2 separate regions of the Homo sapiens genome follow, and region 2 is linked to region 1. The links come from fine-mapping of genetic effects on gene expression. A gene starts in region 1. The other region holds a variant in brackets. All regions are shown on one strand. Distances are between the middles of the regions. Region 1 holds the start of LYPLA1 (lysophospholipase 1). Region 2 overlaps LYPLA1-TCEA1 (LYPLA1-TCEA1 readthrough).

Evidence for each region. PIP is the estimated chance that this variant, and not a neighbour inherited with it, causes the effect. A credible set is the group of variants that fine-mapping cannot tell apart.
Region 2: its variant is the best candidate, but not a certain one, in a credible set for the expression of LYPLA1 in blood mononuclear cells (TOPMed, PIP 0.80).

The regions. Positions count from the first base shown.
Region 1 is chr8:54,098,734-54,104,109 of GRCh38, reverse strand. LYPLA1 (lysophospholipase 1) reads left to right here and starts at 2,163. Exons shown (of 9, transcript NM_006330.4): 1 at 2,163-2,355; 2 at 3,171-3,202. The coding sequence starts at 2,287. LYPLA1-TCEA1 (LYPLA1-TCEA1 readthrough) reads left to right here and starts at 2,163. Exons shown (of 21, transcript NM_001425842.1): 1 at 2,163-2,355; 2 at 3,171-3,202. RefSeq lists a silencer at 2,040-2,609.
Region 2 is chr8:54,051,022-54,056,397 of GRCh38, reverse strand. LYPLA1-TCEA1 (LYPLA1-TCEA1 readthrough) reads left to right here. Exons shown (of 21, transcript NM_001425842.1): 6 at 1,265-1,338; 7 at 3,642-3,743; 8 at 5,210-5,376. LYPLA1 (lysophospholipase 1) reads left to right here. Exons shown (of 9, transcript NM_006330.4): 6 at 1,265-1,338; 7 at 3,642-3,743; 8 at 5,210-5,376. Among named protein-coding and RNA genes, the nearest start is that of TCEA1, 31 kb to the right of the region's middle. The variant C/G (reference allele first, on the strand shown) is at 2,885.

The DNA of each region.
Region 1 (5,376 bases):
GCGTTGTTATCTCTCAATGAGAGTGCAGTAGTGAGGATGACCAGAGTTCACTCTCATTGCCATCTTAGTTTTGGTGGGTTTTGGCCGGCTTCTTTACTGCATCCTGTTTTATCAGCAAGATCTTTATAAGCTATATTTTGCGCTGACGTTCTATCTCATCCTGTGACTTAGAATGCCTTAACCGTCTGGGAATGCAGCCCAATAGGTTTCAGCCTTACTTTACTCAGCCCCTATTTAAGATGGAGTTGCTCTGGTTCACACGCCTCTGACACTGGTTACCGTGTGAAAGAAATGGAGTGTTGTTTTTTTTACAGCTTTCTTCCGAACCTTACTCTCTAAGGATGGTATCCAGTATGTCCTTTTTTTTTTCAGATGGAGTCCTGCTCTGTTGCCCAGGCTGGAGTGCAGTGGTACTATCTTGGCTCACTGCAAGCTCCGCCTCCTGGGTTCATGCCATTCTCCTGCCTTAGCCTCCCGAGTAGCTGGGACTACAGGCAACCACCACCACACCCAGCTAATTTTTTTTTTTTTTTGTATTGTTAGTAGAGACGGGTTTTCACCGTGTGAGCCAGGATGGTCTCAATCTCCTGACCTCGTGATCCGCCCACCTCGGCCTCCCAAAGTGCTGGGATTACAGGTTTGAGCCACTGCGCCCGGCCTCCAGTATGTCCTTCACTGAATTGTAAACTTCTGAAGGTCAGGGCATTTTGGCTTTAAGTGTTTCTATCTTGTGCTCTCTTCCAGATCTTACCATGTAGTTGATATGCAACACATTTGTTGAGTAACTACATTTTAGGCCATAAAGGCACCTGTGCAGAAAAGGGCAGTCTAGTCTCATGCTTATGTGTCCAGAGTTGGTTCCTTCCGGTGGGTTCATGGTCTCGCTGACTTCAAGAATAAAGCTTGTCACCTTCGTGGTGAGTGTTACAGTTTTTTTTTTTTTTTTTTTTTTTTTTTGAGACAAGGTCTCTCTCTGTCTCCCAGGCTGGAGTGCAGTGACGCGATCTCAGGTCACTACAAGCTCTGCCTCTCAGGTTCACGCCATTCCCCTGCCTCAGCCTCCCAAGTAGCTTGGACTACACGACCGGCCAATTTTTTTTTTTTGTATTTTTAGTAGAGACGAGGTCTCACCGTGTTAAGGCAGGATGGTCTCGATCACCTGACCTCCTGATCCACCCGCCTCGGCCTCCCAAAGTGCTGGGAGTGTTACAGCTCTTAAAGGTCCCACAGACCCAAAGAGTGAGCAGCAGCAGCAAGATTTATTGTGAAGAGTGAAAGAACAAACTTTCCACAGTGTGGAAGGGGACCCAGGGCTGCCACTGCCAGCTAGGGGATGGGGGGCGTGGCCAGCTTTTATTTCCTTATTTGTCCCGGCCCAAGTCCTGCGGATTGGTCCACTTTACAGAACACTGATTAGCCCGTTTTACAGGGTACTGATTGGTGCATTTTACAAACCTCTAGCTAGCCACAAAGTGCTGATTGGTGCATTTTACAATCCTAGCTACAGAGTGCTGTTGGTACATTTTACAATCCTCTTGTAAGACAGAAAAGTTCTCCAAGTCCCCAACCGACCCAGAAGACCAGCTGGCTTTACCTCTCACTTAAACCTGTACTGTGTCAATATCCGTACATCAGTAAGTGTTGTCGATCAAGTTAGGGAAGTAGTGGATTTCTGGTGACAAATGTTACCCTTTCCAACTAAAGTTTAAAGAAGGTAAGTTGAACCCAAATCTACATACTGCTGTAGCCCCAAACGGAAATACTGCAAAAGCTCCATCAACGTCTCCCAGTCCATCCAGACTTTTACAAATGGATAGACCCCGGCCGCAGGAAACCAAGGAGCACCTGGGGTTGGGTTGGGTGAATTGGCTCTGGGGCTCATTCTTTTCACTACAGCGCCAGAAAAGCAAAAACCTAAACCAAGACCCAAGAGACCAGCCCTCAGCCTGCACCTGAGAGCACATTTTCCCTAGCCAGCACTGAGCATGCGCAGGCTGCGTGGTGTGGCGAAAGCGCAGCCAGGTCCGCGCTGCCGCCGCAGCCAATCGGAGGGAGGGAGCCGCCCGGACATTGTGAGGTGCCGAGGGAGGGGCGGCGGGCGAGGGGCAGGGCAGGGCGGACCCTGGACGCGCGGGCGCGCGCGGAAGGTAGCGCGGGGCCGCGTTGGCGCGCACGCGCCTGAGCGTGCGCCCGGTGGGGCCGGCCGGGACTCGCCGCTCGCACGCCCTTGGGCCGCGGCCGGGCGCCCGCTCTTCCTTCCGCTTGCGCTGTGAGCTGAGGCGGTGTATGTGCGGCAATAACATGTCAACCCCGCTGCCCGCCATCGTGCCCGCCGCCCGGAAGGCCACCGCTGCGGTGAGTGGCGTAGGCGTGGGCTCGGAGGGGTCCACTGGGCCGGCCACCGGTGGTTGCCCCTCGCGCGGGGTGGGCGTTGCGGGCGCGTGGCGGCCTGCGGACGAGGACGCTCCTCCCGGCCCGGGTGGGGTGCGAATGGTCCGCGCGGCCGGGTCCGCGGGGGGCGGGGGCAGCCGGGGGGTCACAGCCGGCGCGAGGGCCAGTCCCCAGCTCCTCCCTGCATTGCGGAGGAAGTGTGGCCCCGGGACCCCCGCGGGCCGGCCTAGGGCACGGCGTCAGCCTCTGCAGCGTGTTTCTGCCTGGTGTGTGGGTGAGGGAAACCTAAGTCCGCCAGGAAATCGCCTTATTGTCACCTCGCACTCTTATCCTCAATGAAAGAAGTTTGAAGATTGAGTGTCCTACAAGGTCAGACGTACTGTTTTTTAGAAAACTCGTGTATGAAAAGTCAAACTTATTTTTGCCTCCGGAAGCTTGCTTTTGCAGTGGAAAAATTCTACAGGATATGTGAGATGTTCCTGATTTCACTTGAAAGAGATAAACTGTTTTTCTTAGAATGTGATCATTTGCACTCAATGTCTAACTGGGACCTCTCAGTGCTACCCCCCCCCCATTCATTATCTCAGGAAATAAAGGGAGAAGTTGATCAGAATTTTTGCCATTTAAAAGAGGTCGATAAAGATTAAGTCGCCGAAGATAGTGTTGTGTAATTCTCTCGTAGGTTTCGTTCCGTTTTCCACCTTAAGCAAAGCTAGTGTGTAACAATCCTGTGTGGGCTTATTTAGGCATTGCTTATTAATTTTCCTCTTCTCTTATAGGTGATTTTCCTGCATGGATTGGGAGATACTGGGTAGGTACCATTATTATTAATAGTAACAGTAATGAAACTGGGTCATGCAACTTTTGTTTACGCGTTCAAAGGTTTAATGTTTAAGGGCGCTAAAATGGTATTTTAAGATTGCCAGTTAATGTATCTTACAGTGCGGTGATTTTATGTTTTGAAAACCCTCAGAATTTTCCCCTTATCATCGTGAGTTTATTGATTTTTTAACTCTGGTTTCTGGAACATATTAAAATTTCAAATTCCTCATTAGTTGCTTTGGGTATTGGATACCAGAGATCCGTGGAATGTTAGTAGGGACGGTGTGCAATTGAGAGCTTTCCAGAGCAGTTAAAATTTCAGAGCAGATTGAAGAGAAGAACTAGTTGATTTTGATAAGAGAACTAGTGGCAACATAAGGCATGCAGCATTCTGAATAGAGGGATTAGATGTTCACTCTAATGAGTTGAAAGGCAGGGGAGGCAACTCAAAGATTTATTTGGAGGCTTATCAAACAATTTGTTGTACTAACTACTTATTTTTATTTTATTTTTTGTTTGTTTGCTTTTTTCTTTTGTTATTATTTTTAGAGACAAGGGCTCTCTCTGTCGCCCAGGCTGGAGTGCAGTTGCAGGATCTTAGCTCACTGCAGCTTTGAACTCCTGGGCTCAAGTGATCCTTCAGCCTCAGCCTCTCAAAGCACAGAGATTAGAGGTGGGAGCTGCCTGAGCCTGGCCTTTTGTACTAACTTTAGATACATGATTTATCTTTTACTCAAGCTTTTTCTATATTGAGATGTTTTTGTTTTTATATTTAAATTGGTGATAATCTGTGAAACTTAAGCAAAATATGAATGTTGTTGAAAAATTGCAGAAATAGAGGAAAACTGAAGATAAATAAATTTTGATAAAGTAGCCCCAGAACGACTAAATTTTCTTTAAAATGAACCATTGGGGCCGGGCGCGGTGGCTCACACCTGTAATCCCAGCACTTTGGGAGGCCGAGGTGGGTAGTTCACTTGATGTCAAGAGTTCGACACCAGCTTGGCCAATATGGTGAAACCCCATCTCTACTAAAAATATAAAAATTACCCGGGTGTGGTGGTGCATGCCTGTAATCCCAGCTGCTAGGGAGGCTGAGAGAAGAGAATCACTTGAACCTGGGAGGCAGAGGCTTCAGTGAGCCAAGATTGCACGACTGCACTCCAGCCTGGGCCACAGAGTGAGACTCAAAAAAAAAAAAAATGCCATTAGGCTAGATTTTTGTTTGTTTGTTTGGAGACAGGGTCTGCTGTGTTGCCCTGGCTGGAGGGCAGTGGCGTGATCTTGACTCACTGCAACCTCCACCTTCTGGGTTCCTGGGTCTCCCGAGTAGCTGGGACTACAGTTGCTTGCCACCATGCCAGCTAATTTTTGTATTTTTAGTAGAGACAGAGTTTTGCCATGTTGGTTACGCTGGTCTCGAACTCCTGACCTCAAATGATCCACCCACCTGAGCCTCCCAAAGTGCTGGGATTACAGGCGTGAGCCACCACTTAAAAGTGATTCCTATTTTTTGCCTAATAAGTCGAGTTATGTAATACAAACTTTGTATGGAGTTACAGAAAAGGTTGCAGCACTCTTTCTGGCAATCCAGTGGTCCTGTGAAAATGATGAACTTATTTTACCAAATGAAACTCGAATAGCAGAATCTCTATTTTATGGCCAAACCTTTCTTGATGTTGCAAGTCAGGGAGAAGGTTGCTATCCTCTAACTTTGCCAATAATGAGCACTTCTATGCCTGAATGATTAGTTCAAGCAAAAAAAAAAAAACTTCAGTCTAGGCAGATTCCACAGACTGAAGCTAAAAGTAAAAATGGTGAAGACTATTAGGATCAAAAATACCAAGAACATCCATTACATCTTGACCAAAAGTTAAGTTTATATTAAAAAAGTATCCTTCTTTTTAACCTGTTGTGATAAAAGAAAAAACAAAGGTCTCCAGTTCTGAAATTATTTGGTGGGATAATGCTAAGGAAAGGCTGACTCTAGATTGGTTCCATGAGTGCATGATGAAACTTCGAACCTGTCAGCCTGACAAGTGGCAATTTAATACTTAAGATATTGTAGTCTCCCCTTACCTGCAGTTTTGCTTCCCATGGTTTCAGTTACCCGTGGTTAACTGTGGTTTGAAAATACTAAATGAAAAATTCCAGAAATACTTT
Region 2 (5,376 bases), 48 kb after region 1:
CAAGAAATTTTTGCCCAGACCAATGTCCTGGAGATTTTCCCCAATTTTTTCTCGTAGTAGTTTCATAGTTTGAGATCTTAGATTTAAGTGTTTATTGTGATTTGATTTTTGTATACAGCAAGAGATAGGGTCTAATTTTATTCTTCTGCATATGGATATCCAGTTTTCCCAGGACCATTTTTATTGAAGAGACTGTCTTTTCCCCAGTGTATGTTCTTGACACCTTTGTCAAAAATGAATTCACTGTAGGTGTGTGTGTATAGATTTGTTTCTGGGTTCTCTATTCTGTTCCTTTAGTCTGTGTGTCTGTTTTTATGCCAGTACCATGCAGTTTTGGTTACTATAGCTCTGTAGTATAATTTGAAGTAAAGTAATGTGATTCCTCTAGTTTTATTCTTTTTGCTTAGGGTAGCTTTGGCTACTCTGAGTCTTTCGTGATTCCATATAAATTTTAGGGGGCTAGGCACGGTGGCTCACGCCTGTAATCCTAGTACTTTGGGAGGCCGAGGCGGGCGGATCTCGAGTTCAGGAGATCGACCATCCTGGCTAACACGGTGAAACCTCGTCTCTACTAAAAATACAAAAAATTAGCCGGGCATGGTGGTGGGCACCCGTAGTCCCAGCTACTTGGGAGGCTGAGGCAGGAGAATGGCATGAATCCAGTAGGCGGAGCTTGCAGTGAGCCAAGATCACGCCACTGCACTCCAGCCTGGGTGACAGAGCGAGACTTTGTCTCAAAAAAAAAAAAAAAATAATTAGGATTGTTTTTCTATTTCTGTGAAGATTGTCATTGGTATTTTCATAGAGATTGCATTGAATCTGTAGATTGCTTTGGGTGATTTGGGAAAAATATTCCATGGTCATGGATTAGAAGAATTCATGAACAATAACAATCAATATTGTTATTGGTTCTTCTTATCCATGACCATGGAATCTTTTTTCCATTTTTTGGTGTCCTCTTTCATCAGTGTTTTATAGTTTTCATTATAGAGACCGTTCACTTCTTTGTTTAATTCCTAGGTATTTAATTTTATGTGTGACTATCGGAAATTTGATTTTTTTAAAATTTCCTTTTCACGTTGTTCTCCGTTGGCATATGAAAATACATTCTAATTTTGTATTTTAATGAAGTGCTTTGAATTTTTCACTCATTTCCACCTTAAAAGTAATTGCGCTTTTCTATTACTAATTTTTTCCTAATTTAAATTTTATCAGTGGGCTTAACTCTGAAAGTATTGCTGACTAACTTTCATGTTGTTTTTAGTAAAAGCTTTGATTGATCAAGAAGTGAAGAATGGCATTCCTTCTAACAGAATTATTTTGGGAGGGTTTTCTCAGGTAAGATAAAATTTGAGTGGAATGTCAGTACCATCAGTATACTTATTTAGAAGTCTGTGCATTAATCCTTTCTATAGAGTAGTCTTTTTTGATGTTATAGAATCTTGACTGATACACTTACCTTTGATGTTTAATTAAGTTTCAGTGTACTGGAACTAATTAATTTCTTCTTGAAAGAACTATAATACACATGTACACATGTAATTAAATTTCTAAGTTAACACAGTTTATCCTTTTAATTAATTAAAACTGATAACACAGGCATGAGTCCCCTCTATAGGAGGAGACTACTGATAGGAACAGTAAAGTGGAAGACAAGAGAATTTCTTCCCTTTACCTTCACGTATTACAGGTTTTAGGTATGAATATGTGGTGTTTATTTTTGGCATTTTTCTTTGTCTCTGTACTTTTTCCCCTGCTTTCTGTACTCCCTCCACAGACGTAGCTTCCTCATACGGACCTTTCTTTCATGGCTACTGCGGCATATAAGCTGTTTGCCATGGAACCAGTCCCCAGATGCTCTAACTTATCATCTGTAAATCTTCTAAGTTAGCAACTTAGTGTTTGGATTACCTTAATTAGGGAGATGTTTGGATTACCTTAATTAGGGAGATGTCAGAATTCTGAAATTATTTAGAAGATAGAATTCAGTAGAAAGATTTGTTGATACAATATAGTGAAAAGGTGTTACTGATTTGGTGTTTGTTGAAATTCACAGATAATGTATATTGTAATACACATTGTGACATAAACATAGGGACAGAAATTAATGATCCAGGCCAGGCACGGTGGCTCACGCCTGTAATCCCAGCACTTTGGGAGGCCAAGGTGGGTGGATCACTTGAGGTCAGGAGTTCGAGACCAGCCCAGCCAACATGGTGAAACCCTGTCTCTACTAAAAATACAAAAATTAGCCGGGCATAGTGGTGCACGCCTCTGTAACTCCAGCTACTCCGGAGGCTGAAGCAGGAAAATCACTTGAACCCAGGAGCCAGAGGTTGCAGTGAGCCAAGATCGCACCACTATACTCCAGCCTGGGCAACAGAGCTGAGACTCTGTCTCAAAAATAATAATAATAATGATCCAGAATAACAAGTTCATGTGGGAGTCTGTATATTTGATATTCATTCATTACAGTATATAGAAACCAACTCAATACCTCAAGCAAGGAGTAAGCAATGAGTCTGTGGCATCCTATCAAGGAAACTGAGGAGGAAAATGAGGCAAGGCCTCAGGAAGTAGCTAGAAATTGAAAAGCAGTTGGGCCTTGCTCACCATCTCTCATCTCTTGTTTCTTTGCTTGTCTGTTTCATTTACCTTTCCATAAACAATTGGCCATCTTGGCTTTTGCAGCCTATAGCTTTTCCAGCTCTTGAATTTACATGTTACAGGTGTAGCCACACAGAGAGTGACTGGTGGTCATCGAATCCCATTTCCACAGTGCCAGGAGAAAACATCACTGCCTGGGATGTGAAAGGCTCTCGTGTACTCATGTGTTGCAGTAACCCATGGGCATGGTCAGAGTGATGGGGCTTCTGGATGCTGG[C/G]AGGAGTACAGCTTCCAGAATGTGGGATGTTGTGAGCTGGGTAGGCAGATACTCTGAAGGTGTCTGCTAAATAGTTATTATTATCTTAAATTCTCATTTAGAAAGTAATACCAATTTAAGGGCCAGGCACGGTGGCTCACACCTGTAATCCCAACACTTTGGGAGGCTGAGGCGCGTGGATCACCTGAGGTCGGGAGTTTGAGACCAGCCTAACCAACATGGAGAAACCCCGTCTCTACCAAAAATACAAAATTAGCCGGGTGTGGTGGTGCATGCCTGTAATCCCAGCTACTCGGGAGGCTGAGGCAGGAGAATCGCTTGAACTCAGGAGGCGGAGGTTGTGGTGAGCCAAGATTGCACCATTACTCTCCAGCCTGGGCAACAAGAGTGAAACTCCATCTCAAAAAAAAAAAAAAAAGTAATACCAATTTAAGAGCAGATTGGATTTTATGCCTAAAATTCTGCAAAGGAGAAAATATAAATTCAGAATATTCGTAAGGCATGTTGTAAGTGCAGCAGTTTCCCATGGTACAAACTATGTCTCGTCGGAAAGGAAGTCTGTATGTTCTCTGGTGTAGAGAACCGCATCCTTTAGGACACGGTGGGGTGTGTTTGTATTTCCGATATTTGCCTGATTTGATTTGACACCAGCCACCAAGTTTGATTTTTTTATGGATATCATTAGTAACAAGATATTCCCTAAATTGCTGTGGGCAAGCATGTGTGTTCCATTGACTTTCCCTGCTTGTCTTTTCAGGGAGGAGCTTTATCTTTATATACTGCCCTTACCACACAGCAGAAACTGGCAGGTGTCACTGCACTCAGTTGCTGGCTTCCACTTCGGGCTTCCTTTCCACAGGTAACTTGGTTGATGCACTCAACATGAGATTACTGAGCTAAAGGTAGCTAGTAGATATTGTTGGAGATAAAGTCATCTTATTTTTTTTTATTAATAAACTTTATTTTTTGGAGAAGTTCTAAATTCACAGCAAAACTGAGCAGAAGGTACAGAGTTACTATCTACCTCCTGTCCCCACACATGCACAGCCTCCCCACCATCAGCATCCCCACCTCCACAGCCATGTTTTTGCTGCAGTCAGTAATGCTGCACTGACACATCACCATCACCAAGTCCTCCACTTACAGCACTCATCCTTTTTTAAAAATAATTTTCTTAGACTTTTGTGATGTATTACTAGGCCTTATTTCTGTACGCTATACTGTCTGTATTGTGGAGTACATAGAATGGAATTAGAAAGAAACCTTATTGTCACAAATCTTATATTAGAAGGATTTGATACATTTTAGGATATATATGAAAATTAGGACTTTTTTTAACATATAGAAATCATACTTATTTTTAGACCAGGTGCGGTGGCTCATGCCTGTAATCCCAGCACTTTGGGAGGCTGAGGCGGGTGGATTACCTCAGGTCAGGAGTTCAAGACCAGCCTGGCCAACATGGTGAAACCCCATGGCTACTAAAAATACAGAAATTAGCTGGGCGTCGTGGTGCACACCTATAATCCCAGCTACTCAGGAGGCTGAGGCATGAGAATCACTTGAACCCAGGAGGTGGAAGTTGCAGTGAGCCACGATTGTGCCACTTCACTCCAGCCTGGGTAACAGAGCAAGACTCTGTCTTTGGGGGAAAAAAAAAAAAAAAGATAGCTGAATAAAACAGCAACTCAAAATACTAAAACAACCAACCAAACAAACAAAAAAAAGCTGAAAATATAAAGATGGATTAAAATATAATCTGCTTGGCTGGGTGCAGTGGCTCACGCCTGTAATCCCAGCACTTTCGGAGGCCAAGGCAGGTGGATCACAAGGTCAGGAGATTGAGACCATCCTGGGTAACACAGTGAAACCCTGTCTCTACTAAAAAATACAAAAAAATTAGCTGGGCGTGGTGGCACGTGCCTGTAATCCCAGCTACTTGGGAGGCTGAGGCAGGAGAATTGCTTGAACCTGGGAGGCAGAGGTTGCAGTGAGCTGAGATCACGCCACTGCACTCCAGCCTGGGCAACAGAGCAAGACTCCGTCTCAAAAAAACTAAACGAAACAAAAAAATGTATATATAATCTGCTTCAAGGAACTCATTCACTGGGAAGATATATATTATAATATGAGGCAAGGTGATCATACATCCTATAGAAGTCAAAGGGATGTGGTGAGTATATGGATGAAGGAATTTTATTTTTTTGGCCAAATGTAACTTCTAATATGTTATATATATGCATATTTATGTACAATTTTAAATGCCTGGCATAGTGTCCTATACTTTTACAAAAATAAAACTATTTCTTCTTTTGCTTTTTGCAGGGTCCTATCGGTGGTGCTAATAGAGATATTTCTATTCTCCAGTGCCACGGGGATTGTGACCCTTTGGTTCCCCTGATGTTTGGTTCTCTTACGGTGGAAAAACTAAAAACATTGGTGAATCCAGCCAATGTGACCTTTAAAACCTATGAAGGTATGATGCACAGTTC